6 linked regions of the Homo sapiens genome follow. The protein of the gene in region 2 purifies or fractionates together with the protein of the main gene of each other region. This does not show direct contact. Each region holds a gene or a part of one and is shown on either strand. Other genes may lie near its edges. The genes, in order: ATF1, GOLIM4, WRAP73, PPARA, OCRL and GPC1.

Region 1 (4,797 bases), on a different chromosome or scaffold from region 2:
TGGCTCTCCTAAAACTTTTTATCATCCACAGACAATTGTTGTCTTGTTTTAATCCTGTTTAGAAGATGATTTATAATCAGCTATAGAACTCTAGCAGGTGTTCTTAAATGCAGGTTTCTAATAACTTTGGAAATTGTAACATTAGAATAGAGGAAACAACTTTCAGAACTCATGAAGAGCTAGAATGTTCATGAATATCAAATGAAACATGAGTTAATTGAATCAACTGAACCAATAGAAAACTGAAGTAATCTTTGATTAAAATGTTGCTGATCCTTTGTTTTGTTTTTCAGAGTCAAGGAAACTTTTCATTTGAGCTATTTACAGTTCATAGCAATTGAGTAAAGTATACTGCTGTGAACGAAATTTGGAACATATTTGTTTCTCTATATCAGATTTCTCCAGAATTTGGAAACTAGTTGTGAGTATTCTTAACTTATGGCAATGTAATTATTTGCATAAGTGCAATAAGAATCTGTTTTCTTTTGTAACAGAATACAATTGGAGAAAGTGGTTATTTTACCAAGGCTTTGACTGAAATGGTGTGCTTTTCTTTAAGGAATCAAACTTGACTTGTAGAGCCAATAAAAGCCCTTTGGGGAACTGGCCTCATACCTTGCCTACACAGTGCCTGTACAGGGTTTCTGACCTATGGTAAGTAAAGAATGTCACTTTCTCACCTGTCCAGGAGCCCCAAGTTATCTTGGGACCTCAAAAGGAGAGAAATTTACCCAAGTTATAGGTATTTAAGGGTACAAACCCATGTCAGGGCTTGGCTTTTAAAAAAGTCTTATCTGAGATTCCTTATGAAACAGAGTTCCATCAAAGCCAATTAAAAAGCCTATGTGAAAAATTATTATTCTTGCTGCACTTTATACAAACAATCAGGCCAAGTATAATAAAGCAAGTCAGTCTTACCATAATTTGTCTTTAGTAAAAATGGGAAACTGGAGAGAGAAATACTATGTTTCAAAAACTATGGTACACTTGTTATTAAATTCTGGTCTCATTAATTGTTTTTAAGTTTGTTTCTGCAATTTAGGCTAACCCTGCGTATTCTTGTAAACCAACCAGTAATCTCTAATTGTTGCTCAGAAGAAATAAGAGGGATGGGTAATTTAAAAATCTGGATCAGTATTCTGATTCTGGGCACATTACAATCAGCTAACAACCCGATATCAGCTTAGTTCCAGTGGTTGCCTGGTTCATGAAAAGTCTTCTAATTTAGTTTATTTGGAATAACTTTACTTATTTTGCTTTACTCTTTTTTTTTTCTTTCTTTCTTTTTGAGACAGAGTCTTGTTCTGTCGCCCAGGCTGGACTGCAGTGACACCATCTTGGCTCACTGCAGCCTCCGCCTCCTGGGTTCAAGTGATTCTCCTGCCTCAGCCTCCCAAGTAGCTAGAATTACAGGCACACATCACAACGCCCAGCTGACTTTTATATTTTTAGTAGAGATAGGGTTTCACCATGTTGGCCAGGCTGGCCTCGAACTCCTGACCTCAGGTAATCCACCTGCCTCGGCCTCCCAAAGTGCTGGATTACAGGTGTGAGCCACTGTACCCAGCCTATTTTGCTTTACTCTTGTGGAATATATTGCTGTTATACTTTTTGTGTAGGAATACAGGACAAGCTTACTGAACGTTTTCTTACTAATTTTCCAGATACCACCTTTTGTTGAAACTTGAGTTATGAATGAACCTTACCATACTGATGCTTTCTGACTGAGCTCCTTTTTACCCTGAATGCAAGAGACCCTCATAGGCAGGCAGGAATATCATTGCCCTATTTAGCCTGAAGAAGTTATAGAAGATGGATCTTCGTCCCTCTGCAACCCTTAGGATTAAGGGTTCTCTTAGACGGGGGGAAATGTCAGAGGCGTATGAACCAGAGCAACTCCATCTTAAACAGGCTGGGTAAAATGAGGCTAAAACCTACTGGCCTGCATTCCCAGATGATTAAGGCATTCTAAGTCACGGGATGAGATAGGAGGTCAGCACAAAATACAGGTCATAAAGACCTTGATGATAAAACAGTTGCAGTAAAGGAGCCGGCCAAAACCCACCAAAACCAAAATGGCCACGAGAGTGACCTCTGGTCGTCGTCACTGCTGTGCTCCCACCAGCGCCATGACAGTTCACAAATGCCATGGCAAAGTCAGGAAGTTACCCTGTATGGTTTAAAAAGGGGAGGCATGAAAAATCCACCCCTTGTTTAGCATATCATCGACAAATAACCATAAAAATGGACAACCAGCAGCCCTCGGGGCTGCTCTGTCTATGGAGTAGCCGTTCTTTTATTCCTTTACTTTCTTAATAAACTTGCTTTTACTTCACACTGTGGACTTGACCCATTATTTCTTGTGCGAGATCCAAGAACCCTCTGTTGGGGTCTGGATTGGGACCCTGTCCTGTAACAATAGCGTCTCACTGTGTTGCTCAGATTGGTCTCAAACTCCTGGGCTCAAGCGATCCTATCGCTTAAGGGTACAAAGTGTCTCCCAAAGTGCTGGGATTACAGGAATGAGCCATCGCACTTGGCTATATTTTTGCAAGTTTTGTTGTGCCTGAATTGCTCCATTCCTTTTTTTTTTTTTTTTTTCTTTTTTGAGATGGAGTTTCACTGTTGTTGCCCAGGCTGGAGTGCAATGGCATGGTCTCGGCTCACCGCAACCTACGCCTCCTGGATTTAAGCGATTCTCCTTCCTCAGCCTCCCAAGTAGCTGGGATTATAGGCATGTGCCACCACCCCTGGCTAATTTTGTAGTTTTAGTAGAGACCGAGTTTCACCATGTTGGTCAGGTTGGTCTCGAACTCCTGACCTCAAGTGATCCACCCACCTCGGCCTCCCAAAGTTCTGGGATTACAGGTGTGACCCACTGTGCCTGGCCAAGTTGTCCCATTTCTAAAGCTGGGGTGAGGTAACTGTCTAAATATATTTTTCTCTCTCTCTCTCTCTCTTTTATTTTAAGAGACGGGTGTCTCACTTTGTTACCCAGGCTGGAGTGCGCCTAGCCTTTTTTTTTCCCTTCAACTTTTAAGTTCCAGGGTACATGCACAGGATGTGCAGGTTTACTGCATAGGTAAACATGTGCCATGATGGTTTGCTGCACAGAACAACCCATCACCTAGGTATTAAGCGCAGCATCCATTAGCTGTTCTTCCTGATGCTCTCCCTTCCCCCACCGCACCCTCCTCCACAGGCCCCAGTGTGTGTTGTTCTCCCACCATGTGTCCCCGTGTTCTCACCATTCAGCTCCTACTTATAAGTGAGAACATGCAGTGTTTGATGTTCTGTTCCTTTGTTAGTTTGCTGAGGATAACAGCTTCCAGCTCCATCCATGACCCTGCAGAGGACATTATCTCTTTCCTTTTTATGGCTGCATAGTATTCCATGATATATATGTACATGTTCTTTATCCAGTCTCTCATTGATGGGCATATGGGTTGATTGCATGTCTTTGCTATTGTGAATAGTGCTGCAGTGAACATATGTGGGCATGTATCTTTATAATAGAATGATTTATATTCCTTTGGGTATATACCAATAATGGTATTGCTGGGTCAAATGGTATTTCTACCTGTAGGTCTTTGAGAAATTGCTGCACTGTCTTCCACAATGGTTGAACTAATTTACACTCCCACCAACAACGTAAAAGCATTCCTTATTCTCCAAACCTCGCCAACTGTTGACTTTTTAATTGCCATTCTTTTTTTTTTTTTTTTTTTTTTCGAGACAAAGTCTCATTCTATTGCCCAGGTTAGAGTGCAGTGGCACAATCTTGGCTCACTACAACCTCCGCCTCCTGGGCAGCCTCCCAAGTAGCTGGGACCACAGTCACCCACGATGCCAGCTATTTTTTTTTTTCTTGAGACTGAGTCTTGCTCTCTTGCCCACGTTGGAGTGCAGTGGTGCAATTTCTGTTCACTGCATCGTTTCCGCCTCCTGGGTTCAGGCGATTCTCCTGCCTCAGCCTTCCAAGTAGCTGGGACTACAGGTGCCCACCACCACGCCTGGCTAATTTTTGTATTTTTAGTAGAAATGGGGTTTTGCCATATTGGCCAGGCTGGTCTCAAGCTCCTGACCTCAAGTGATCTGCCCGCCTCGATCTCCCAAAGCGCTAGGATTACAGGTGTGAGTCACCATGCCAGGCCGGTAATCGCCATTTGACTGACGTGAGATGGTATCTCATTGCGGTTTTGATTTACATTTCTCTAATGATCAGTAATGTTGAGCTTAAAAAGCTCTTAGTTTATTGCCTAACATATAATGTTTCTTTCTTTGCAAGTTTTCTTTTCTTTTTTCTTTTTTTGGAGATGGAGTTTCACTCTTGTTGCCCAGGCTGGAGTGCATTGGCACTATCTCAGCTCACTGCAACCTTTGCTTCCTGGGTTCAAGCAATTCTCCTGCCTCAGCCTCCCGAGTAGCTGGAATTACAGGCATGTGCCACCATGCCTGGCTAATTTCTTTTTTATATTTAGTAGAGACGGGGTTTCTCCATGTTGGCCAGGCTGGTCTTGAACTCCTGACCTCAGGTGTTTCACCCACCTCGGCCTCCCAAAGTGTTGGGATTACAGGCGTGAGCCACCGCGCCCGGCTGCAAGTTTTCTTAAAAGGGCCCTGCCTTCCCTGACATTCTCTCTATGTCAGCAAGATCTCAGCCCACCATTTCTCAGTTCCTTCTATTCCCATTGATGGTGCTTTTGAAGCGGTGTTTCACTACTCCCTTGTTTCTGCCTGACTTTGGGTTATCTCCTGTTAAGCTTATATATGCTAACTGGGGGCTTACTTTATTTT
Region 2 (4,797 bases):
TTGGAAGAGAGCAGTGGTTCTCCCAGCACGCAGCTGGAGATCTGAGAACGGGCAGACTGCCTCCTCAAGTGGGTCCCTGACCCCTTACCCCTGAGCAGCCTAACTGGGAGGCACCCCCCAGCAGGAGCACACTGACACCTCACAAGGCAGGGTATTCCAACAGACCTGCAGCTGAGGGTCCTGTCTGTTAGAAGGAAAACTAACAAACAGAAAGGACATCCACACCAAAAACCCATCTGTACATCACCATCATCAAAGACCAAAAGCAGATAAAACCACAAAGATGGGGAAAAAACAGAACAGAAAAATTGGAAACTAAAAAGCAAAGCGCCTCTCCTCCTCCAAAGGAACACAGTTCCTCACCAGCAACAGAACAAAGCTGGATGGAGAATGACATTGACGAGCTGAGAGAAGGCTTCAGACGATCAAATTACTCTGAGCTACGGGAGGACATTCAAACCAAAGGCAAAGAAGTTGAAAACTTTGAAAAAAATTTAGAAGAATGTATAACTAGAATAACCAATACAGAGAAGTGCTTAAAGGAGCTGATGGAGCTGAAAACCAAGGCTCGAGAACTACATGAAGAATGCAGAAGCCTCAGGAGCCGATGCAATCAACTGTAAGAAAGGGTATCAGCGATGGAAGATGAAATGAATGAAATGAAGCGAGAAGAGAAGTTTAGAGAAAAAAGAATAAAAAGAAATGAGCAAAGCCTCCAACAAATATGGGACTATGTGAAAAGACCAAATCTACGTCTGAATGGTGTACCTGAAAGTGATGGGGAGAATGGAACCAAGTTGGAAAACACTCTGCAGGATATTATCCAGGAGAACTTCCCCAATCTAGCAAGGCAGGCCAACGTTCAGATTCAGGAAATACAGAGAACGCCACAAAGATACTCCTCGAGAAGACCAACTCCAAGACACATAATTGTCAGATTCACCAAAGTTGAAATGAAGGAAAAAATGTTAAGGGCAGCCAGAGAGAAAGGTCGGGTTACCCTCAAAGGGAAGCCCATCAGACTAACAGCGGATCTCTCGGCAGAAACTCTACAAGCCAGAAGAGAGTGGGGGCCAATATTCAACATTCTTAAAGACAAAAATTTTCAACCCAGAATTTCATATCCAGCCAAACTAAGCTTCATAAGCGAAGGAGAAATAAAATCCTTTACAGACAAGCAAATGCTGAGAGATTTTGTCACCACCAGGCCTGCCCTACAAGAGCTCCTAAAGGAAGCGCTAAACATGGAAAGGAACAACCGGAACCAGCCACTGCAAAATCATGCCAAATTGTAAAGACCATCAAGACTAGGAAGAAACTGCATCAACTAACGAGCAAAATAACCAGCTAACATCATAATGACAGGATGAAATTCACACATAACAATATTAACTTTAAATGTAAATGGACTAAATGCTCCAATTAAAAGACACAGACTGGCAAATTGGATGAAGAGTCAAGACCCATCAGTGTGCTGTATTCAGGAAACCCATCTCACGTGCAGAGACACACATAGGCTCAAAATAAAAGGATGGAGGAAGATCTACCAAGCAAATGGAAAACAAAAAAAGGCAGGGGTTGCAATCCGAGTCTCTGATAAAACAGACTTTAAACCAACAAAGATCAAAAGAGACAAAGAAGGCCATTACATAATGGTCAAGGGATCAATTCAACAAGAAGAGCTAACTATCCTAAATATATATGCACCCAATACAGGAGCACCAAGATTCATAAAGCAAATCCTGAGTGACCTACAAAGAGACTTAGACTCCCACGCATTAATAATGGGAGACTTTAACACCCCACTGTCAACATTAGACAGATCAACGAGACAGAAAGTCAACAAGGATACCCAGGAATTGAACTCAGCTCTGCACCAAGCGAACCTAATAGACATCTACAGAACTCTCCACCCCAAATCAACAGAATATACATTTTTTTCAGCACCACACCACACCTATTCCAAAATTGACCACATACTGGGAAGTAAAGCTCTCCTCAGCAAATGTAAAAGAACAGAAATTATAACAAACTTCTCTCAGACCACAGTGCAATCAAACTAGAACTCAGGATTAAGAATCTCACTCAAAACCGCTCAACTACATGGAAACTGAACAACCTGCTCCTGAATGACTACTGGGTACATAACGAAATGAAGGCAGAAATAAAGATGTTCTTTCAAACCAACGAGAACAAAGACACAACATACCAGAATCTCTGGGACGCATTCAAAGCAGTGTGTAGAGGGAAATTTATAGCACTGAATGCCCACAAGAGAAAGCAGGAAAGATCCAAAATTGACACCCTAACATCACAATTAAAAGAACTAGAAAAGCAAGAGCAAACACATTCAAAAGCTAGCAGAAGGCAAGAAATAACTAAAATCAGAGCAGAACTGAAGGAAAAAGAGACACAAAAAACCCTTCAAAAAATTAATGAATCCAGGAGCTGGTTTTTTGAAAGGATCAACAAAATTGATAGACCGCTAGCAAGACTAATAAAGAAAAAAAGAGAGAAGAATCTAATAGATGCAATAAAAAATGATAAAGGGGATATCACCACCGATCCCACAGAAATACAAACTACCATCAGAGAATACTACAAACACCTCTACACAAATATACTAGAAAATCTAGAAGAAATGGATAAATTCCTCGACACATACACTCTCCCAAGACTAAACCAGGAAGAAGTTGAATCTCTGAATAGACCAATAACAGGAGCTGAAATTGTGGCAATAATCAATAGCTTACCAACCAAAAAGAGTCCAGGACCAGATGGATTCACAGCCGAATTCTACCAGAGGTACAAGGAGGAACTGGTACCATTCCTTCTGAAACTATTCCAATCAATAGAAAAAGAGGGAATCCTCCCTAACTCATTTTATGAGGCCAGCATCATTCTGATACAAAGCCAGGCAGAGACACAACAAAAAAAAAGAATTTTAGACCAATATCCTTGATGAACATTGATGCAAAAATCCTCAATAAAATACTGGCAAAACGAATACAGCAGCACATCAAAAAGCTTATCCACCATGATCAAGTGGGCTTCATCCCTGGGATGCAAGGCTGGTTCAATATACGCAAATCAATAAATGTAATCCAGCATATAAACAGAGCCAAAGACAAAAACCACATGATTATCTCAATAGATGCAGAAAAAGCCTTTGACAAAATTCAACAACCCTTCATACTAAAAACTCTCAATAAATTAGGTATTGATGGGACGTATTTCAAAATAATAAGAGCTATCTATGACAAACCCACAGCCAATATCATACTGAATGGGCAAAAACTGGAAGCATTCCCTCTGAAAACTGGCACAAGACAGGGATGCCCTCTCTCACCACTCCTATTCAACATAGTGTTGGAAGTTCTGGCCAGGGCAATTAGGCAGGAGAAGGAAATAAAGGCTATTCAATTAGGAAAAGAGGAAGTCAAATTGTCCCTGTTTGCAGACGACATGATTGTATATCTAGAAAACCCCACTGTCTCAGCCCAAAATCTCCTTAAGCTGATAAGCAACTTCAGCAAAGTCTCAGGATACAAAATCAATGTACAAAAATCACAAGCATTCTTACACACCAGCAACAGACAAACAGAGAGCCAAATCATGAGTGAACTCCCATTCACAATTGCTTCAAAGAGAATAAAATACCCAGGAATCCAACTTACAAGGGATGTGAAGGACCTCTTCAAGGAGAACTACAAACCACTGCTCAAGAAAATAAAAGAGGATACAAACAAATGGAAGAACATTCCATGCTCATGGGTAGGAAGAATCAATATCATGAAAATGGCCATACTGCCCAAGGTAATTTATAGATTCAATGCCATCCCCATCAAGCTACCAATGCCTTTCTTCACAGAATTGGAAAAAACTACTTTAAAGTTCATATGGAACCAAAAAAGAGCCCGCATCGCCAAGTCAATCCTAAGCCAAAAGAACAAAGCCGGAGGCATCACACTACCTGACTTCAAACTATACTACAAGGCTACAGTAACCAAAACAGCATGGTACTGGTACCAAAAGAGAGATATAGATCAATGGAACAGAACAGAGCCCTCAGAAATAACGTCGCATATCTACAACTATCTGATCTTTGACAAACCTGAGAAAAACAAGCAATGGGGAAAGGATTCCCTATTTAATAAATGGTGCTGGGAAAACTGGCTAGCCATATGTAGAAAGCTGAAACTGGATCACTTCCTTACACCTTATACAAAAATCAAGTCAAGATGGATTAAAGACTTAAACGTTAGACCTAAAACCATAAAAACCCTGGAAGAAAACCTAGGCATTACCATTCAGGACATAGGCATGGGCAAGGACTTCATGTCTAAAACACCAAAAGCAATGGCAACAAAAGACAAAATTGACAAATGGGATCTAATTAAACTAAAGAGCTTCTGCACAGCAAAACAAACTACCATCAGAGTGAACAGGAAACCTACAAAATGGGAGAAAATTTTCACAACCTACTCATCTGACAAATGGCTAATATCCAGAATCTACAATGAACTCAAACAAATTTACAAGAAAAAAACAAACAACCCCATCAAAAAGTGGGCGAAGGACATGAACAGACACTTCTCAAAAGAAGACATTTATGCAGACAAAAAACACATGAAAAAATGCTCATCATCACTGGCCATCAGAGAAATGCAAATCAAAACCACAATGAGATACCATCTCACACCAGTTAGAATGGCAATCATTAAAAAGTCAGGAAACAACAGGTGCTGGAGAGGATGTGGAGAAATAGGAACGCTTTTACACTGTTGGTGGGACTGT
Region 3 (4,797 bases), on a different chromosome or scaffold from region 2:
TGGGTGCTCCACCCCGCCCTGCTGATGCTGAGATGCTCCGTTGCTGCACCCTGCCCTGCTGATGCTGAGATGCTCGGGCGCTCCACCCTGCCCTGCTGATGCTCAGAGCCTCGGGCGCTCCACCCCGCCCTGCTGACGCTCAGAGCCTGGGGCGTTCCACCCTGCCCTGCTGATGCTCAGAGCCTCGGGCGCTGCACCCCGCCCTGCTGATGCTCAGAGCCTCGGGCGCTGCACCCCGCCCTGCTGATGCTCAGAGCCTCGGGTGTTCCACCCTGCCCTGCTGATGCTCAGAGCCTCGGGCGCTCCACCCCGCCCTGCTGATGCTGAGATGCTCGGGCGCTCCACCCCGCCCTGCTGATGCTCAGAGCCTCAGGCGCTGCACCCACCCTGCTGAGTCTGAGAGGCTTGGGCAAGGTTTCAGCCTCAGACACGCTGGTGGGAAGTAGCACGCTTCCTCGCTCAGGCCCCAGCGCCCTCCTTGGCCTCAGCTTGTGGAGCTGTTAGAGGAGCAAGTGCTCTGTGCAGCTGGAGTTCCGAGGCATGGTCCCCAGAACGGCCAGTGTGTTTCGGGTTCAGCATCAGCACAGGAGCCCTTCCGTGCTGCCACGTGACCCCTGGAGCTCGTTGATCCACTACCTGTGTGTTCAGGACTTCTCTCCTGAACGCTGTATATGTTGTTTGGAGAAACAATTACAGACATCAGATTTTCTTTTCTGTTGTAAGAAGAGATGATGCGTAGACATTTAAATTAAATCATTTGTTAATATCCTATACTGACAACCTGGCAGCGTTTGCAGGAGTGACACTGTGGACATGCTGTGCCCCACACGCTGCGGCCCCACTTACGCTGCTGGAGACGGTCCCCCACCCCGGGCCTCATCCTCAGCGAGGACCCCTGCCTGACACACACGGAGCTGGCAGTCAGCACCCCACCCCGCATGGAGCTGCGCAGCCCTGTGTCCCCACACACGGAGCTGGCAGTCAGCACCCCACCCCACATGGAGCTGCGCAGCCCTGTGTCCCCACACACGGAGCTGGCAGTCAGCACCCCACCCCGCACCTTGTGTCCCCGCACCTCGGCCATATTTCAGTTAACTACCAGATTCATCAGTGGGCCGGGGATGTGGGAAGCAAGATGATTCCCTGGTAGGCTCCACGGGGTCTCAGTGGGAAATGCAGGTGGAGGGACACAGCAGCCCTGGAAGTCCCGCGGCGCTGCCACGGGGAGGGCTGGACCACCCACTGCGGTGCCTCTCCCTCAGCAGGCACGCCCTCGTCGGCCTGGTTAGAAAATCATCTTTTGGCCTCACTGTGCCAGCCTAGTCAGCTCTCAGCTCCCTGAGTCAGGGAAAGGGGTGGAAAAGTGGACAGTCCAGCAGCGCATGTTCTAGAACCCTCTGCAGATGCAGCCAGGCCAGCGAGCACACGCAGGAGGCAGACGGACACCTTCTTGGGTGTTGAGTGGCTGCTCCTGCCTCAGGGCTGCAGATGCAGGCTCACAGCCCCCTGGTGAGTCCCGGAGTGGCTGCATCCAATCTCCAGATCCTCTGTCTTCCCATAAAGGAGACTGAACCCGTGGTGGTTTCTAGATCAAGATTTTTCTCTGAGTAACTCAGGGTTATTATAACATGCAACCTATGGTCACTTTGAAAAAGCTAATGAAAAAGCACTTGGATTTAACTTTGTGTCACTCAATTTTGGTATAAAACAACAACAACAGAAAACCAAGAACACCAAATTTACCGTAACCACAGTAAAATACGCATTTGAATATTCCGGTAGGAGGGCAGGCATCCCCCAGGTCCTGATAGATCCACTCCAGCAGTCAGGCCTGTGCTTGGGGACGCGTGGGCGGGTTGAGGATTGAGACGGTCTCTGATGATGCTAAAGAAGTGTTTCCTTTCTCTTTCCCCTTTCCCCCAACAGCTGCGGATAACCGTCTGGTCCTTGTGCACAAAATCCGTGTCTTACATCAAATACCCGAAAGCTTGTCTGCAGGGTGAGTCGATCGGAGCCACGCAAAAGCCATTTCTTTGCAGCTGTTTGACTTTTTTGTCACGGGAAGTTTCAAAGAGGCAGAAGTAGCTTCAGCAGCATATCAACACATAGCCAACCCCCTTGGGCTCTTTTAAAGGAGACCTTAGGTCTCCTCATACTTCATCTGTAAATATTTCCATATGTGTCTCAAAAAGGCAAGAGTCCCCTTTTAAAACATGACCACAGTGACTCAAGACAACGTGGCCTAAGACATGGAAGAACGGTGGCGTTGATGCCGGTCCCCTTGACCTTGGCGGCAGAGCTGGGCGTTCAGACCCCTTCCAGCCGATGCCTGTTGAGAGGCCCACCTCAGGCATCCAGTTCTGAGCTTTCTCTCTTCTGTGGACTAAATATGATGTCTGCGAAAGGGGGAGGTCTTGCCTGTCATCTCTGGGCATCCCAGAGGGATATGTGACCAGTGTCCCTTCCTTGTGGAAGCCTGTGAGCCATCTGGAAGAAAGGGGGCCGGCGCAGGGTGGCCCACTGCCAGCGCGTCTAACTGGACCGCGCAGAGCTAGTGGGAGGTGCCACTCCTGAGTCCTGGACGACACCGCACTGTCTTTTTGCGGAATGAAACATACACAGTTGGAATGATGCTTTCATTTTTCTCTGTTGCTGCCAGCGGTTTGGAAATTGCATTTGAATGCAATGCAGTCACACTCTTATTCTTATAGTTGGAATATTAGCGTCCCTCCAGATGAGATACATATCTCTTGATAGGAGTGGACACCGTGGTTTCGTCATTTGAGGTATTCTTTTCACTCAGGAATGATGAATTCTGGCCTAGGGCTTTTTAAGCTAATACAGAACTGGAAAATAAGAGTTTAACATTTTCAACTAAAGTTTCTTCCACATTTTCATCTTATTATTACTTTTTTGAGACAGGGTCTTGCTCTGTCACCCAGGCTGGAGTGCAGTGACACGATCACAGCTCAGTGCAGCCTCGACCTCCTGGGCTTAAGTGATCCTCTCACCTCAGCCTCCTGAGTAGCTGGGACTACAGGCACACACCATCACAGCCGGCTGATATTTTGTAGAGATGGGGTTTCACCAAGTTGTCTGGGCTCCTTTCAAATTCCTAGGCTCAAGCGATTCACCTGCTTCAGCCTCCCAAAGTGCCGGGATTACAGGCGTGAGCCACCATGCCTGGCCACACATTTTCATCTTCAGTTTACTTCTTCCAAATAATTAAATTCAAAGGTAAAATAAATATGGTAGGAACCAGCTGCCTTTTGCCTAGCTGGAGATAGCCCTGGGTGTCCCGCAGCTTAGACATGGGGGGACTCGAAGGCCTGTGTTTCTCACTCATATTTGTGATTAATCAGAGGTCACATCACTTGGTATTTTTGACAGAGCCTTGCAAACCGGCTCCTGTGTGTGTACAGCTTCCCCCAGCACACACTGCGTTGTGAGGGTGAAGGCACCGTGCCTTGGGTTTCTCCTCTGCGCTAGAATGTTCTTGTCTGTCTGAGGAGCAGTGCTCGGCATTGTGCCATTTCCCTTCTTTTCACCTCTGCTTTCTTTTCCTCCTCCTTCCTTGTGAATTACTACTGTGGTTTCTCTTGCTTGATTTTGTGGCCGCTTGATTTCAGTGCATTTGCCTCTTCCCACAGGAATCACCTTCACCAGGGACGGCCGCTACATGGCGCTGGCAGAACGGCGCGACTGCAAAGATTACGTGAGCATCTTCGTCTGCAGTGATTGGCAGCTCCTGCGGGTAAGGCGTCCCCCAGACTGGAATAAAGTTGTCCTGCTGACTGTGGAGGGATCGAGTGAAGTAGATCCTTCCAGATTCCAGGGGATCTTTGGTAGGATATGGAGCAAGGTGATGTTGTATTAACAAAGGGCAGGTGCGCTGCGAATCACTTCCAGTGGCACCCGGTTGTGTGTTCAGGAGACTTGGTGAAAAGGACGCGTGCCCAGGTGTTTTAAAAGTGAATATGCTGTCACATTTGAGCCCTTTTCCTTGTCCTGTGTGATGGTGTTTGCGCATGTGTGTGCCACGTCGGGAGTTGGGGGGACGTGGAAGTTCACCTTGACTGAGGGCCTGCATTAGGCAGGGCGCTCTGCCAGGTGCCCAGGCACAGAGGGCACTGCCCCCACAGCAGACATATGAACACGATTCCAGCACAATCCATCATTAAGGTAGAGCAACCTCTGGAATGCTGTCAGAGTGCAGAACCCGGGATCCAGGCAGTGCTCTGGAAGGGACTTGTCTGAGCTGGGTCTAAAGGAGTGAGCCTGGCCAGGCAAGGAAAGGTGAGGGGGAGAGTGTGCACATGAGTGCAGGTGCGGGGAGACCAAGCCACCTTCGGGGGCTGGCCAGGCAAGGAAAGGTGAGGGGGAGAGTGTGCACACGAGTGCAGGCGCGGGGAGACCAAGCCGCCCTCGGGGGCTGGCCAGGCAAGGAAAGGTGAGGGGGAGAGTGTGCACACGAGTGCAGGCGCGGGGAGACCAAGCCGCCCTTGGGGGCTGGCCAGGCACTGACGCTGGCATCTGTGGCGGTGCAGCCCCAGCAGCAGCTCTACAGGGATTTCATGCATTTCCAGGATAGAGCTGTTGAGATTTTGTCAATTTCTATATAAGGAAATTAAGTGCGTTAAGAACATCAGTCATAAATGCAATTATTTATTTACGAAAATATTTTCCAAATTTAATGTTTCCCCCCCTTCCTTTGGAAGCATTTTGATACGGACACCCAGGATCTCACAGGGATTGAGTGGGCCCCAAACGGCTGTGTGCTGGCAGTGTGGGACACCT
Region 4 (4,797 bases), on a different chromosome or scaffold from region 2:
TCGAAGTGGCAGCTTAAAAAACTGCCCATCTCAGGAGGTGTCTTAAGAAGGAGGACATACCGCTGGCTCCTGCCTTTCTCACTTAGCCAGGTCTGATACCTGTGTTGTTTTCACTGTGGCCATTTTAGGATTTTTCAAAGGCTTTCAGAAAGCAACATGCTACCGTACCCCTTATACACCAAAACTGGTTTTCATTTTGGAATATAAAAGTGAGATTTCTCCACCAGTACAATAAAGTTGTTACAAGTGGTTCCTATGTGTTTGTTTTTGTTTTTGAGACAGAGTCTCACTCTGTCACCCAGGCTGCAGTGCAGTGGCACAATCTTGGCTCACTGCAACCTCCGCCTCCCGGGTTCAAGCAATTCTCCCACCTCAGCCTCCTAAGTAGCTGGGACTACAGGCACCCGCCACCACGCCCAGCTAATTTTTGTATTTTTAGTAGAGATGGAGTTTCACCATGTTGGCCAGGCTGGTTTTGAACTTCTGACCTCAGGTGATCCACCTGCTTCAGCCTCCCAAAGTCTTAGGATTACAGGCGTGAGCCACCACACCCGGCCTCCTGTGTGTTTTGAAGGTGATTGTGACCTCAGGTTTTGGCAGGGCTATACCTTGTGTTTGCTCTTACTCCAACTCCATGGCATACCTGGACCAGGCCTCTTCATCTTGAAGAGGGATCTGCTGAAATGCAGGCCCAGTGAATCTCCCCATGCCTGGACACAGTTCCGTCAAGCCAGGACCCGGTGCTGCCTGCACCCCTGTTTCTGTTAGTCTGACTGTCCTCGCTGAGTCTAACTCCTTGAGGGCAGAGAGGATGTCTTATTTATTTCTGCCCCGCTAGCCGTGTAAACTGAGTAGGTACTTGTAAATGTTCATTGAATAAGTACCTGATTAATAGAATTTAATTCAAGAAGAATGTATTGATGGGCCTGTGTGGTCACCACAGTACTGAGATGTAGGTGGGAGCTGGCTGAAGGGGGAGGCACCTAAACAGGAGTGCAGACAGCGGCACCTACGGATGATGGCCCGCTCCATCCCACCGCAGCGAAATTGTCCCAGACCTCTGCAGCTTCCCCCACACCTAGACTGAGAGAGAGCTCTTCTTCCTTCTGTAGGGAGCAGGTGTTTCCTCCAGATGTCCAATATGTACCTCCCATTACAGCGGTGTTAGGAAGGTGAGGGCTGCCGCTGAAAGGGTCCCCTTCATAATCATCACTAGATTTGGGGTATATTATGGATTAAATAGAATTTTTATAAGATGACCTGAGGATCTATTTAAATAAAATCCTCTTTCTTTCTGCAAGATCATGGATTTAAATTCAACACAACTGACTTCATAGGGAAGGGGTATGGTGAAAGGGAAGTGAGGTGGGCAGCACTGATATTTAACAAGGTGAGGGTCCTTCTCCTGCTCTGACTGTCACATTAAAATATTCCCAGGAGAAATTGGAGAAAACTCAGATGAAATATCGTCTGTGTTCCAGGAGGCAGGACTCATCGGAATGCTTTTATTTTGCTCCATTTTAAGAGATTTGCAGATAAAGAGGAGTGAAGATTTCTATTCAGATTTACTTGCTTTATATTTTAACTTATAGACCACAAGCCAACTTTCGAAAGAGCATCATTTTGAATAGTAAGAGTTAGGAAGGCAAATACAGAAGGACTAATGGCTTCCAAGATTATGAGCTTCATAGGAATGGTTTGAGATGAGGCTATAGTAAAGCAGAATATTGAAGTTCCCCCACCCCCTTTCATTTTTCATTTTTCATTTTTAAGAGTGAGCGAGGCCAGGCGTGGAGGCTCACACCTGTAATCCCAGCACTTTGGGAGGCCGAGGTGGGCAGATCACAAGGTCAGGAGTTTGAGACCAGCCTGGCCATCATGGTGAAACCCTGTCTCTACTAAATGTACAAAAATTAGCCAGGCTTGGTATCAGGTGCCTGTAATCCCAGCTACTCAGGAGGCTGAGGCAGGAAAATTGCTTGAACCCAGGAGTCGGAGGTTGCAGTGAGCTGAGATCGCACCACTGCACATCTCAGAAAAAAAAAGAGTGAGGCCCCAAGTTTTTTTGCATTTGTTTGTAACTGAATACGTCTGAAGTTATGTGATAACCACGCCAAGGTGACAAATTGCCAAGTTTCAGTAAAAGAGACCCAGTTATTTAGAGGTTGACACGTGGATATGTCCCTTTCTAAGAAGTTCGTGGTCAGCTTTACATGAGTATTTAAATGCGTGTTTATAATTCAGCAATATGGCTTGTAAAATACAGATTGCCAATCAAGTGACATGCAAATCTTGATGATCTGAAACAAGTTTTCTTCTGTTATCTATGGAAGAAATGGTAATAGGGATATTTAAGTGGGATGAATTTTTTGAAGCATTTTCAGGCAGTTTTCCACATGGAACAAAATAACATTGAGTGGGCTGCTAACATGAGGAACATATTGCCCTCTGCCTAGGATTATGAGTAAATTTGATAAATTCTAGACTGCAGTCTCATTTTAGCTCATTTTATGAGGCAGCTTGACAACTGGGATAGTGTCTCTTTTTTTTGTCGGGGGTGTTGAGGCTGGAGTCTCGCTCTGCTGCCCAGGCTGGAGTGCACTGGCGTGATCTCGGCTCACTGCAACCTCTGCCTCCGGGGTTCCAGTGGTTCTCCTACCTCAGCCTCCTGAGAAGCTGGGATTGTAGGCATGTGCCACCACGCCCGGCTAATTTTTGTATTTTTTAGTGGAGACGGGCTTTCACCATGTTGGCCAGGCTGGGTCTCAAACTCCTGACCTGAAGTGATCTGCCCGCCTCAGCCACCCTAAGTACTGGGATTACAGGCATGAGCCACCACACCTGGCTTCTGTTCTATCTGTGCATTGGGGATGAAATTAACACAAATGATGTTTAAAGAAAAAAATGCTCAGAGAAGTTAGAAATGTGCTTTAAATTGGAATCATCTCTTAGTATGTAAAAGTTTTTTGTAATAGAAACAAGCAGGGCAGTATTTGACCTGTTGACAGTGTCCTTGGACTTTACAATTTGTGAAGCAGCGTATTTTGCTTGAGTTGTACGATTGTCGTTTTTTTCCCCCCACTTTGACAACTGTTACAGAACCTGTCACCAGATACAGGCAAGGGAGGTTGGGCTTCCCATCTCTGCACGGCTTCCCTGTGATTCACAAGCAAGCAATCAGAAGTGCACAAAAGTTTAGAACGCGATTTTCATTCTCTTCTTTCCTTAGAAAAACTCGCTTTGTTAGCCTTTTCCAGAAAGGAAGGCACTCAATTGTTGTAATACTCAAATCATAAAAAGAAGCCTAGTCTAGTCTATTCAGCAAGGTGTTCTGAAAGAGGGAATTTTTTAAGTTCAATTATGCGAAGATCTTGAAGGTGGGACTCAAAGGAGAGGGCTATCCTGGGAAGAAGGCTTTGGAAAATGAGAGGCATGAAGGGGAGAGGGTATTTAAATGTGTTTGAAGCCAAGGATCCTTGAGAGAAAAAGCTGGCACTAACAGCGTTCAAAGAACTTGCGTGACAAGTGATGACTAATGACACTGAGGGTGGGTTGTGGGTGCCTAGTGAATTCCTCCGAAGCCAAGAGAGAGGTTTCCAGACCCAGGGAAGAAGGTGTGTACACCCAGAAGTAGTGTAGGGACAGAGATTCCGATCACAAGCTGTGACTGGAAGACGCCGACCACCACTGCAGCAGCCTGAAAACCACAGTCTTGAACCGCCAGCGAAGGGCTGGGAAGTGCGGATCCAGGGCTGGTGCACTGAACCCAGAGGAGCAGGCTCCCATTCCCAGCTAAGGGTGGCAGCTGGCGGGGATCTTTCCAGCAGAAAGCTGTAAGTGGAAGCTTTCAATTCAGAGCAGTAGCAATGCCTTCAAAGTCCCAGGCTTCACGTGGGAACAGAGAATGTGAAGAGTATTTAGCAGGATGCCAATATAAGAAATCTATATTGGTGTTCGTTTGTTTGTTTTTGAGATGGAGTCTCGCTCTGTCACCCAGGCCGGAGTGCAGTGGTGCGATCTCAGCTCACTGCAATCTCTGCCTCCTGGGTTCAAGCGATTCTCCTGCCTCAGCCTCCTACATAGCTGGTACTACAGGCACGCGCCACCATGCCTGGCTAAATTGTTGTATTTTTAGTAGAGATGGGGTTTCACCACGTTGGCCAGGCTGGTCTCAAACTCCCGGCCTCATGATCCGCCCTCTGCAGCCTCCCAAAGTGCTGGGATTACAGGCGTGAGCCACCGCACCTGGCCCAATATTGTTTGTTTATTTATTTCTTGACAGGATCTCACTCTGTCACCAGGCTGGAGTGCAGTGGTGTGATCTCAGCTCACTGCAACCTCCACCTCTCTGGCTCAAGCAATCCTCCCTCCTCAGCCTCCTGAGCAGCTGGGACTACAGGTGCACACCACCACACCCAACTAGATTTTGTGTTTTTTGTAGAGATGGGGTTTAGCCATGTTCAGCTAGTCTCAAACTCCTGGGCTCAAGTGATCTGTCCGCCTTGGCCTCCCAAAGTGTTGGGATTACAGGTGTGATTCATGATGTCCAGCCCAGTATTTTTCTTTCACTCTGGAAACCAAAAATTATTGGCTTTTTTTCCTGTTGCATTCCCTTTACTTAGATGAATCTAGCAAGGTTGGCTGTTAGTGTCTAGGTCAGAAGTCTAAGTGAAAGTGAATATTTAACCACACTCAAGCACAGCTGATGATCTTTAATACTAATAGAGGTATAAGACTTAAAAGAAACAAGAACCCAGAGGGAAAATATGGCCATGGACTCAGAGAAAACCACGGCAG
Region 5 (4,797 bases), on a different chromosome or scaffold from region 2:
TTAGGATGATTAAACAAGGGGAATTAGGGCATCAAGACATAGATATTGTATGCTTACTACTGTTCTTCATTAACTTTTAGTTCTGTAAAACCTGAGTGTTTACAGATGGTTTTCTTTTTCTTTTTTTTTTTTTTTTTTTGAGACGGAGTCTTGCTCTGTCACCCAGGCTGGAGTGCAGTGGCACGATCTCGGCTCACTGCAAGCTCCGCCTCCCAGGTTCACACCATTCTCCTGCCTCAGCCTCCCGAGTAGTTGGGACTACAGGCACCCGCCACCATGCCCGGCTAATTTTTTGTATTTTTAGTAGAGACGGGGTTTCATCGTGTTAGCCAGGATGGTCTCAATCTCCTGACCTTGTGATCTGCCCACCTTGGCCTCCCAAAGTGCTGGGATTACAGGCCTGAGCCACCGCGCCCAGCCGGTTTTCTTTTTCTTTAGAGATGGCCTCACTCTCTCACCCAGGTTAGCATGCAGTGGCACAATCACAGCTCACTGCAGCCTCGAACTGCTGGGCTCAAGCAACCCTCCTGCTTCAGCCTCCCAAGTAGCTGGGACTACATGTATCTGCCACCACGTCTGGCAAATGTTGTTTTTTTAATTTTATTTTTGTACAGATGGGGTCTCGCAATGTTGCCCAGGCTGGTCTTGAACCCCTGGGCTCAAGCAATCCTCCTGCCTCAGCTTCCCAAAATGTTGGGATTACAGGTGCAAGCCATCGCGCCTGGCCACAGTTTACAAAATAGATGCAGGGGTCAGGAAATAGAAAGGAGATGAAAATCAAAAGTAAGTCTTCCTTTAGTCATGGGGAACTACGTTACATGTGTGCACATATTTTCCCAGGTTCTAAGAAGCAGCACTACGATCTAACAATCAGCAATTGATTTCTTATTAAAAATACTAAGAGAAACAGGGTAAAAGAGATCCTAGAGGTAGAGTAAAAAGGTACAAAGCTAATAGGATATTAATTTAAAGTCATGTTCTTTGGCTCTTCCCCTCTGTGAAGGCCTACACCTTGAAAAGTGAGGTGGCCACAGCAACTTACTATGGAACGTGGCTACCTTGTTTAGTATGTCTCTCTCACATAGGGCAGGCTAAATAGCTATCACTTCATTCTTCCATACAAATATGGACACTATTCATTGAAGTTATTTTTAATTCTTAACACATGCATTCTTAAAAAGTCATATCCACTAGCTTAGTATTTTCACTTATAGGAATACATCCTGAGGAAATAAGAGATGTGCAGGTATATTTAGGTGCAGAGATGTTCATCATATTACTATTGATACTAGTGAAAAATAACCCAAATGTCAACATAGGGGAATAATTACATTATGGACCATTCATAAACTGGTATGGTATATAGCCATTAATGGCATGGAAAAGTGCTCATAATACAATAGCATGTAGAAGAGACAAAAAATTGTATAAGATGAGTATCACTCACCCTGCAATGTATGTGTAGAAAAAAGGAAAATGCTAGGTGTTTATCTCTGAAAGGATGGGAATTTAAGTGACCTATTTTCTTTACACTTTTCTGTTCTTTCCAAATGTATTACATTATGTACATGTCACTTAGTGATTAAAAAAAAAGTTCAATGTAGTTTAAGAAATAATCCATGCAAGGTAAGATTTAAGTTTTCCAAGAAAGGCCAGGCATGCTGGCTCACACCTGTAATCCCAGCACTTTTGGAGGCCGAGACAGGCAGATTGCTTGAACTCAGGAGTTTGAGACCAGCCTGGGCAACATGGCGAAACCCCGTCACTACAAAAATTACAAAAAAAATTAGCTGGGGGGTGGTGCACCTGCAGTCCCAGCTACTTGGGAGGCTGAAGTGGGAGGATCACTTGAGCCTGGGAAATGACCTTGTCTTGAAAAAACAAGTTTTCCAAGAAGCTACAATTGATACAGAATGCTTCTGCTAGATAAAGCCACTGGTCCTAGTGAAAACAGAATGCATTTGTTCTCTAGTATCAATTTCCTTTCTAGAGCAATGTGAGATGACAGAAGCAACACCTCCTACACAAACCTCCCAATTTTTAAGTTTCATTGTAGCAGATGAAACAACAGATTTTCTATGCTCCGTCCCCAAATTTGAGGGCAGGAGGCCAAATATTTCCTCCCCAGAGTCAATTTTCTTATGATTCACCAATGTCAAGGTTTGAGAATCAGCACAATTGAGTGTAAGATATTACAGTCTGGCAAGGCATGTTGCCAAATGTCTTAATTTCAAATAGCATGTGGAGAAAGTGCTGAATGTGTGTGAATCCAAGTGACCTTGGTACCTTATGAGCACTGTGTCCGTTAAGCCCAAGAATGTTATTTAAATCCACATATAGGTCAGTCAGCATAAAAAACTACCTACACAGGTAACAATCTACATACATCTCTAACCCAAGCCAAGGAAACAGGTGAGACTATAGACACACATATACAAATATATTTCGATATAACCCTTCAGCATTCTTAGAGAAAGTATCATCTCCTCAATGTTATCTTTTTATGCAAAGAGTAATACATTTCATTTTACATGCACTGACAAATTTAAATATGTATGGTATTACATAATGCAGTAATGACCGAGAAAAAACATTATAAAACTAGCTAAGGAATTAAAGCTAGTACCTTGAACACATCTGAAGTGGCTATTTATAGGAATGATATCTTGAACATGCTGTTCCTTCTCATGCAACTGGATTATTAACCTAGGAAACAGAAGAACGCATCAAAGAACAGCCACTGAAAAACTCATTTAGCAAAAAAATACTTCACTGTCCTGTTATACAAATCTAGTCTGTATTTACTAGACTTGCTGCATCTAGTTCCCTGGATCTGAGCATCATGACAGCTAGATATTGCTCTAGGCCTAAAAGGATGCTAGTGGTGATGAACATCTGATTACCCACACTGTTCTCTAGGCCATATATCCTAAAAACAGTGTACAAGCTTAAGAGCATGAATTACAGAGTATATAGCTTCAGAGTATGCATACCAGAGTGAAGAACTGACAGCTAGATGTGAAGTCCATGAGTGCAGGGACCACAGCTATCTTTACACCACGGAATTTCTAGTACCTAGCACAAAGCCTGGCACACAGGAGTTGCTCGTGTGTGTGGAATCAATGAATTAGAAAATTCATAAATTAACCTTCCAATTATATTCCCATGGCTTTTTACCAAAGAATGGATCTGTCTCTTCAAACAAGCATTCAGGTTCATGGAGGAGTAAGAGGGGGTGCTCAGCCAGCTGGATTGGTCAAAATATCAGTGACCAACAAGGTGGCAGATATCACAACTGGATTGCCTTCAAATCCCTTGTTTCTTCTCTGGTTTCCAAGTTTACGCTGGTATTTCTACATAAACATGAGTAAACCTGACTCCCCAGATGAAATCCATACTTCTAAATCCATACGTACTCCTGAAATATTAATTTTTCATTTATTATTTATCCTTAGTGGTCCAGAATCAAGGTACGACCTACTGGTAAACAGCCATTCTGAACGTCAACTAGCATTCTCAAAGTCAAGCACTCTTCAAGTATTGTTTTTAGTTTTTTGTCAGGAACACTCTGTTTCTTTCCGAGTTTCATCTCAAATATCACCTCCTCCATGAAACTGTCCTCAGTACCCCCAAGCAGAACCAGCAGCCTTATCGCCTTTGTTTGCCCCTCTAATAGAACACTTACACACTCCATTATGGTTATATTTATTTCCCCTCACTGATTTCAGCTCCTTGAAAGCAAAGACCAGATCATATTCAGTTTTGTCTGCAGCCTAATAGATGCTCAACAAATACTGGCTGAATAAATTAACTAGCTTAATTAAGCTATAAGCAGCGGTGAATTTTTCAATGAAACTGTCCAACTTCTGACATTAAAATGTCATTGTTTTGAAGGGTTTGATTTCTATTTTGTTGTCTTTTGGGGGTGCTTGTTGCTTTTGCTTTTTGCATTTTCAAATGTGTTAACTTTGAAGAGGATAACCTGGGATAGGATAAGTAATTACTTAGATAGAACTAAGGGAAATAAAAGTATTAATGCTGTTTTTCTGCTGTGATCCTTCTTGCCTAATTTGCAGGGGTTTGTACTCTAAGGTGATTACAGGAATATGGGGCAGGCCCCTTTCCATCTGGAAAGTTCATGAGTTGAGTGGAGAGTCCTATAAACCCAGATGGAAACCAGAAACCAGATAAAAGGCTGAGAAATCAAGGGTTAAGGAGGAAGAGCTTACTTTGAGGAAGATAAACACAAACCACTAAAATCTCAAAATACATAAACAAGAAATGGTGTTGAACATTAGCATTAAAGCTTCATCTGGACAGTACTGTTAAAAACTATTACAAAACAAATAAACTGAGAATTTAAGTGAATTTCACCAACATTTATTGAGTATTTACTACGTGTTACCCACTAAATTACAATAAAAGAGTAGGGCTAAGAATAAGCATAAAAATTCTGAGTGTAATTATTCATTTCAGAATATAAAGATTAGAAATAATTGGTATACAGCAAAACAATGGAATTCAGAATTTGGTAGTTGTCAAACAGAAAAGAGTGACAAATCCTGAATGCCAACTCTGCCTTATCCCTAGGAAACACTTTGATTTGTTCAAGGAAGGTTAAAGGTCAAACAGGTTTTGTCATAATCTATTATCCTTGAAAAATATGAATCTTAAGTGTTTGATTCCCTGTTTCCAAAAAAACCCTGATTTTTAATTGTAATTTTGGTCAAGCAAATTTCCTATGGTTGACAGTAGGAACCACAGACCTAAAGATTTAAGTCAGGCTTCAAGTTCTAG
Region 6 (4,797 bases), on a different chromosome or scaffold from region 2:
GGAACATCACCTGAGTGGCCCGGCCCTGCCACCCGGACCTGAGGGAAAAGCGGAGGCCCACGGCAGGAGGGGCTGGCCAAGGACCCAGTAGCTGTGCAGGGCCTGACGCTGAGGCCTCCCAGGCTTGTGGGGACCAGGCTGTGCCCAGAGAGCGCCTCAGGTGGACGGGGGTGAGTGGCAGGCTGGGGCGTGGTCACTCCCTCACACTGTCACCAGGGTCTCGGGCACATCTGTGCTGAGCTCTAAGCCCATTACAGAAACACGGCCCAGTGCTCAGGAGGCCACAATCACAAAACACCCAGAGCCTCGGGGTCTTTGCCACCTGATGGGAAGATGTAGGTGTGCCGGGCTGGGCTAGCTCCCCACTACAGGCTAAACTGTACCCCCAAAACCCACATGGCTGAGGCCTAACCCCGATTCCTCAGGATGTGACTTTGGGTGTGGAGTCTGTGTGACACCTCTCGTTAAGAAGAGATGGTACCGGTGGGCCCTGACCCAATTAGAGTTGTGTCCTTGTGAAGAGGGGGAATTCGGAGACAGAAGCGCACACGGGGAGAGCGGCCTGTGGAGGCCAAGGTGGGATTTACCAGCCAAGGAACACCTGGAAGCTGGCAGTGTGGAGCAGACTTCCTCACGCCTCAGAAGGGGCCAGCCTGGTGGACGCACACTTGATCTCAGGCTTCCAGGCTCTAGAACCACGGACGACCCATGTCTGCAGCTGCAGCTGCTCAGCCTGTGGCACTGTTCCGACAGCCCTGGAAACACTTGTGCTCCCAACCCCGGCACCCAGCCCCACCCGGTACCGGGAGGGACTCGGGGCCTTCCCCACCCTGTGTGGAGCTCAGGCCTGCCCAGGCGGGGGCCCCGGCAACAGGGAGGGTACGTGTTGGCCGATGCCCGGGAAGTCAAGCTGTGGGGAAAGGCCGGAGGAGGCGGGTGCTGTGGGTGGGCACAGGGAGGACACCGTGGAGGGAGGGGACAGGTGTGCCAGAAAGGTGGGTCAGCAGGAGCTGGCGGGAGATGGAGCTGAGGCCACAGGCAGGAGAGGGGATGGTGTGAGGCTGGCCTGGCCCTCTCAGGGGCTCCTAAACCCACCCGGATTCCAGACTGCTACCGAGCCTGGGGCAGTGGGGTATGCCCCTCACACCTGTACTTCCCCGCCACCCACGGCGGGCCAAGGGCAGCCAAGGAGGCTGCAGCTCTGGGCCCTGCTCCTCAGCATAGCCCTCACCCAACACCTGGCTGCTGCGTGCTCCCGCCTGGGTGTGGGGCCTGGAGGTGGAGGGAGAACCGCCCGCTTCCCTGGCCCAAGCCTCAACACCCTACACTGCACCCCCCACCCCGTCAGGAGACTTCAAGCGGCTCAGGGCACCTGCCCAGGCCTGTTCCCAGACAAAGAAAAGCCACCACAGGCACGGCAGCGAGGAGCCCAGGCTCCGGGCAGGCGGCTCCTGTCTGGAGCCCCCACGTAAAGTGGGCAAGATCCCGGGCCCCACAGGGCTGTGCTGGCGACTGGCAAGATCCAGGCCGGCTCAGGGCTCTGGGCACGTCGACACTGGACAGGGCCAGGGCTGGGCAGAGGCCCCGCATGTAGGAGTGCCCACCCCAGCCTCCACCACGGGTCCAGTCTTGATCTGAAATAACTGAGCCAGGCCCTGTGAGGACGGTCTGGCTTAAGAAAAGGCGTCCAGCCTCTCACTGGCCCGGGCACGGCAGATGTGGGGCCCCAGGCCAGACCTGACCAGTGTGGCTTCGGGTGAGCCCCTCCCCTGGCTCGTCTCCTGTCTAGTGCCAGCCCATGGCTGACACCTGTGCCATGCACATGGATGCCATAGAACAGACATGGGCATGCTCAGACACCCACTAAGCTCTCCTCCGAGGTCTGATGTGCAGCCCTGCGGTTCGGCCACCAGGTAGGTATGCCCCCCGTCCTGCTGTAGGGAGGCGTCCTCGGTACCTGGGAAGGCGCGTTAACCACAGGCTCACACTGTCCCTAGAGATTGCTGGTGTGAAGGTACAAGCCCCAACAGACTGGACTGCCTTATCTCCCTGGCTTGGCACCTGTGGGCACCTGAATAGGGTACCTGTCCACTAATCCTGGGGCACTTGGCCCAGTGTGGGTGGCTGGTCTGCCCTGTTGGGGACATGCAGGGCTTCGTGGCACACGCTGGGAACAGCCCTCCTAGCAGTCCTGCCCCCCACAGGCAGTGGAGCCAGGCCGGAGGGTGAGGCCCAGCTGTGTGGAAGTACGACTCTCTGGGCGGCACGGCCAGGAGGAGCTGGGCAAGACCGGAGGCAGGGAGGCCAGGAGGAGCTGGGCAGGACCGGAGGCAGGGAGGCCAGGAGGAGCTGGGCAGGACCGGAGGCAGGGAGGCCAGGAGGAGCTGGGCAGGACCGGAGGCAGGGAGGCCAGGAGGAGCTGGGCAGGACCGGAGGCAGGGAGGCCAGGAGGAGCTGGGCAGGACCGGAGGCAGGGAGGCCAGGAGGAGCTGGGCAGGACCGGAGGCAGGGAGGCCAGGAGGAGCTGGGCAGGACCGGAGGCAGGGAGGCCAGGAGGAGTCCCGGTTAAACGTTCTAAATGAGCCTAAGAGATGGAGCCCAGGCCCAGGACAGGAGAGCGGGCTGGGAAAAGCACGAGCCTTCCAAGAAGTGCAGAGCCTGGGACAAGCAGCCTGGCCTGGCTTTACTGGGCAGTGGTCAATGCTGTAGCCAGATCTGGCCCTAAGAGGAGCGCTTCACCAGGCTTCGGTTTACTCATTTGTAAAACAGGTCTACAAAGACCCCTTCCGTCTGATGTGTTAACCAGACAGTCATGGGAAACGCTCCACAAGCCGGGTTTCCCCGTGTTCTAAGAGCACCCGGGTTCATGAGTGCTCTTAGGGTACCGGATGCCATTAACTGAGAGGGGTGTGTGTGGGCCTTTGCAGAGGGTGTCCGGGGAGAGGGGGGACACAGCCCGAGGCTGCCCACGAGGTGCACAGCCCCAGCACCTTCTCCCTCCTGGCCACCTTCACAGGAGGTCACGATTATTCCCTTTCTCTCCTGTGAAAAGGCCCGGGGACACCGGGGATGGGATGGGGGTGGGGGCATCTGTGCCTGAGGAGTGCTGTGGCCTGCCTGGCATGGGAGGCTTGGCGGTCCAGCAGGGACCCAGGCCATTGCATCACGCAGGTGGCCCTGTCGGATCAGGGCTCCCCTGGGCTCCGCTCGGTCCTCACGCTGGGGATGATGAGCTCCTCTCATGGAGGGAAGAGCAGCGACACAGCAAAGGCTGAGGACCACCTGGGAACCACGCTGAGCCACCTGGACAGGACAGGGCACAGGGAACTGTCTGGTCTGGTGAGGGGCTGTGTGCCAGGCAGCCTCCGAGAGGCCCGCTGAGCAGGACTGAGAAGCAGATGCTGGTGGGCTCTCCCGGGCCCAGCCGGAAACACCCTTTCAGGGATGTGGGAAGGAGAGGTCCAGGCCCTCTGAGGATGGTTCCCCAGAGTCTGTGTGCCAACCACCCAGGCGGTCAAAAGTGGCACAGAGAAGAAAAGATTCCTTCGGAGGGGCCCAACGAGTGGGTGCTTGGTACAGGCTCCAGGGCACGCTGGTGCCCGCTCCAGCTGGTAGGCGGGCTGCCACTCTGGGCACAGGAGCGGCTGGGCAGTTTCTGTGCCACCGACAGTCCCATGCCCCACTCTGACTTCTGCCCCCAAAACTAGACCTTAGGGCCCCTCCTCTGCCTCAGGCTGGGAGACCCTGAGAACAGGGGTGTCTGCTCCAAGGAGACCCTCCTCTACCCTCCATGTCCCGCTCCCCACCCAGCACAGCCAGGTATAAAGCCAGGAAGGCCTGGGGGTGTCCTCCGAGAAGCTATCCTGGGCCGGGAGCCAGCCGGGTTCTGTGGCTACAACAGGGAAACAGTTAGAGGTGGTCCCAGCGACCAGGGAGCTCAGGTGCCAAGGTGGGGCGCTGAGACCCCAGCAAAGGAGCAAACAGACACACATCACATCACATCAGACATCAGGAGGCCAGACAGGTGCTCTGGGAACACCTATGCCCAGACACAACCTTGCAAGCAAAAGCAGGAGGCCTGCTGGCACGCGGGCAGTGATTCAGCATGAGGGCTCCTGGCAGCGCAGGGGCACCCGGGGTGCCACTCGGCTCCGCCCTTGCCTTCTGTGCCGTGCCCTGGCATAAAGGGAGGGTGGCCGGGTGCCCTGCTGCAGTGCCACCGTCCAGCTGGTGGCACCCAGGCCTGCTTCCTTGCCCATAAAATGGGATGACCACTGCTGTCACTGCAGCCTGGCCTGGCTGTCCAGAGGACAAAGGAAGTCTCAAAAGGGAGCCCAATATGTCCCGACACTGCCCTCTTTCATGAGCTAAGTCTCCTGTCACCCACTGCCTTTTCTGGTCCCTGGGGCAGAGGCTGGGAAGGCCCGCCACACACCCAGGGCCAACTGCTCTCCTTCCCACGAGGAAGTATCAGATCTCTACCCCACCTGCTCCGGGCCAGCGAGGTGCCCAACCCCAGGGGGTTCGCATTCCCTCTGAGGAGGTCCCCCTGGAGAAGTCTGGATGCAGGAGAGAGGGGACTGAGAATGGTGCCTACTAGGCCACAGAGGGTCCAGGGCTCCTGGGAGGATCTGCCGCCCAGGGGCCACCAGAGGGCGCCCGTTCCACGGAGCCCAGGCCCAGCCGACAAAGCAGGAGGGGACACTGGGCTTGGCTGCCCCAGGACTGCTGCGACCCGAGGGAGTCACCCTGTTTCCCTCAGCCCACGTGGCTCCCACACTGTCTTCTGTACCCTGG

Evidence for each region.
Region 1: the proteins of GOLIM4 (region 2) and ATF1 purify together in Homo sapiens (co-immunoprecipitation; one large-scale study listed by IntAct). This does not show direct contact.
Region 3: the proteins of GOLIM4 (region 2) and WRAP73 purify together in Homo sapiens (co-immunoprecipitation; one large-scale study listed by IntAct). This does not show direct contact.
Region 4: the proteins of GOLIM4 (region 2) and PPARA purify together in Homo sapiens (co-immunoprecipitation; one large-scale study listed by IntAct). This does not show direct contact.
Region 5: the proteins of GOLIM4 (region 2) and OCRL purify together in Homo sapiens (co-immunoprecipitation; one large-scale study listed by IntAct). This does not show direct contact.
Region 6: the proteins of GOLIM4 (region 2) and GPC1 purify together in Homo sapiens (co-immunoprecipitation; one large-scale study listed by IntAct). This does not show direct contact.

What each region holds. Positions count from the first base shown.
Region 1 is NC_000012.12:50,769,736-50,774,532, forward strand, and holds part of ATF1 (cyclic AMP-dependent transcription factor ATF-1), read left to right. Parts: intron 1-3,713; exon of another isoform or gene 3,714-4,797.
Region 2 is NC_000003.12:168,011,654-168,016,450, forward strand, and holds part of GOLIM4 (Golgi integral membrane protein 4), read right to left. Parts: intron 1-4,797. UniProt on the Homo sapiens protein: Plays a role in endosome to Golgi protein trafficking; mediates protein transport along the late endosome-bypass pathway from the early endosome to the Golgi.
Region 3 is NC_000001.11:3,635,952-3,640,748, reverse strand, and holds part of WRAP73 (WD repeat-containing protein WRAP73), read left to right. Parts: intron 1-1,926; coding exon 1,927-1,999; intron 2,000-3,650; coding exon 3,651-3,754; intron 3,755-4,718; coding exon 4,719-4,797.
Region 4 is NC_000022.11:46,156,345-46,161,141, forward strand, and holds part of PPARA (peroxisome proliferator-activated receptor alpha), read left to right. Parts: intron 1-4,697; exon of another isoform or gene 4,698-4,797. UniProt on the Homo sapiens protein: Ligand-activated transcription factor. Key regulator of lipid metabolism. Activated by the endogenous ligand 1-palmitoyl-2-oleoyl-sn-glycerol-3-phosphocholine (16:0/18:1-GPC). Activated by oleylethanolamide, a naturally occurring lipid that regulates satiety.
Region 5 is NC_000023.11:129,542,867-129,547,663, reverse strand, and holds part of OCRL (inositol polyphosphate 5-phosphatase OCRL), read right to left. Parts: intron 2,707-4,797; coding exon 2,627-2,706; intron 1-2,626. UniProt on the Homo sapiens protein: Catalyzes the hydrolysis of the 5-position phosphate of phosphatidylinositol 4,5-bisphosphate (PtdIns(4,5)P2) and phosphatidylinositol-3,4,5-bisphosphate (PtdIns(3,4,5)P3), with the greatest catalytic activity towards PtdIns(4,5)P2.
Region 6 is NC_000002.12:240,438,297-240,443,093, reverse strand, and holds part of GPC1 (glypican-1 precursor), read right to left. Parts: intron 1-4,797. UniProt on the Homo sapiens protein: Cell surface proteoglycan that bears heparan sulfate. Binds, via the heparan sulfate side chains, alpha-4 (V) collagen and participates in Schwann cell myelination.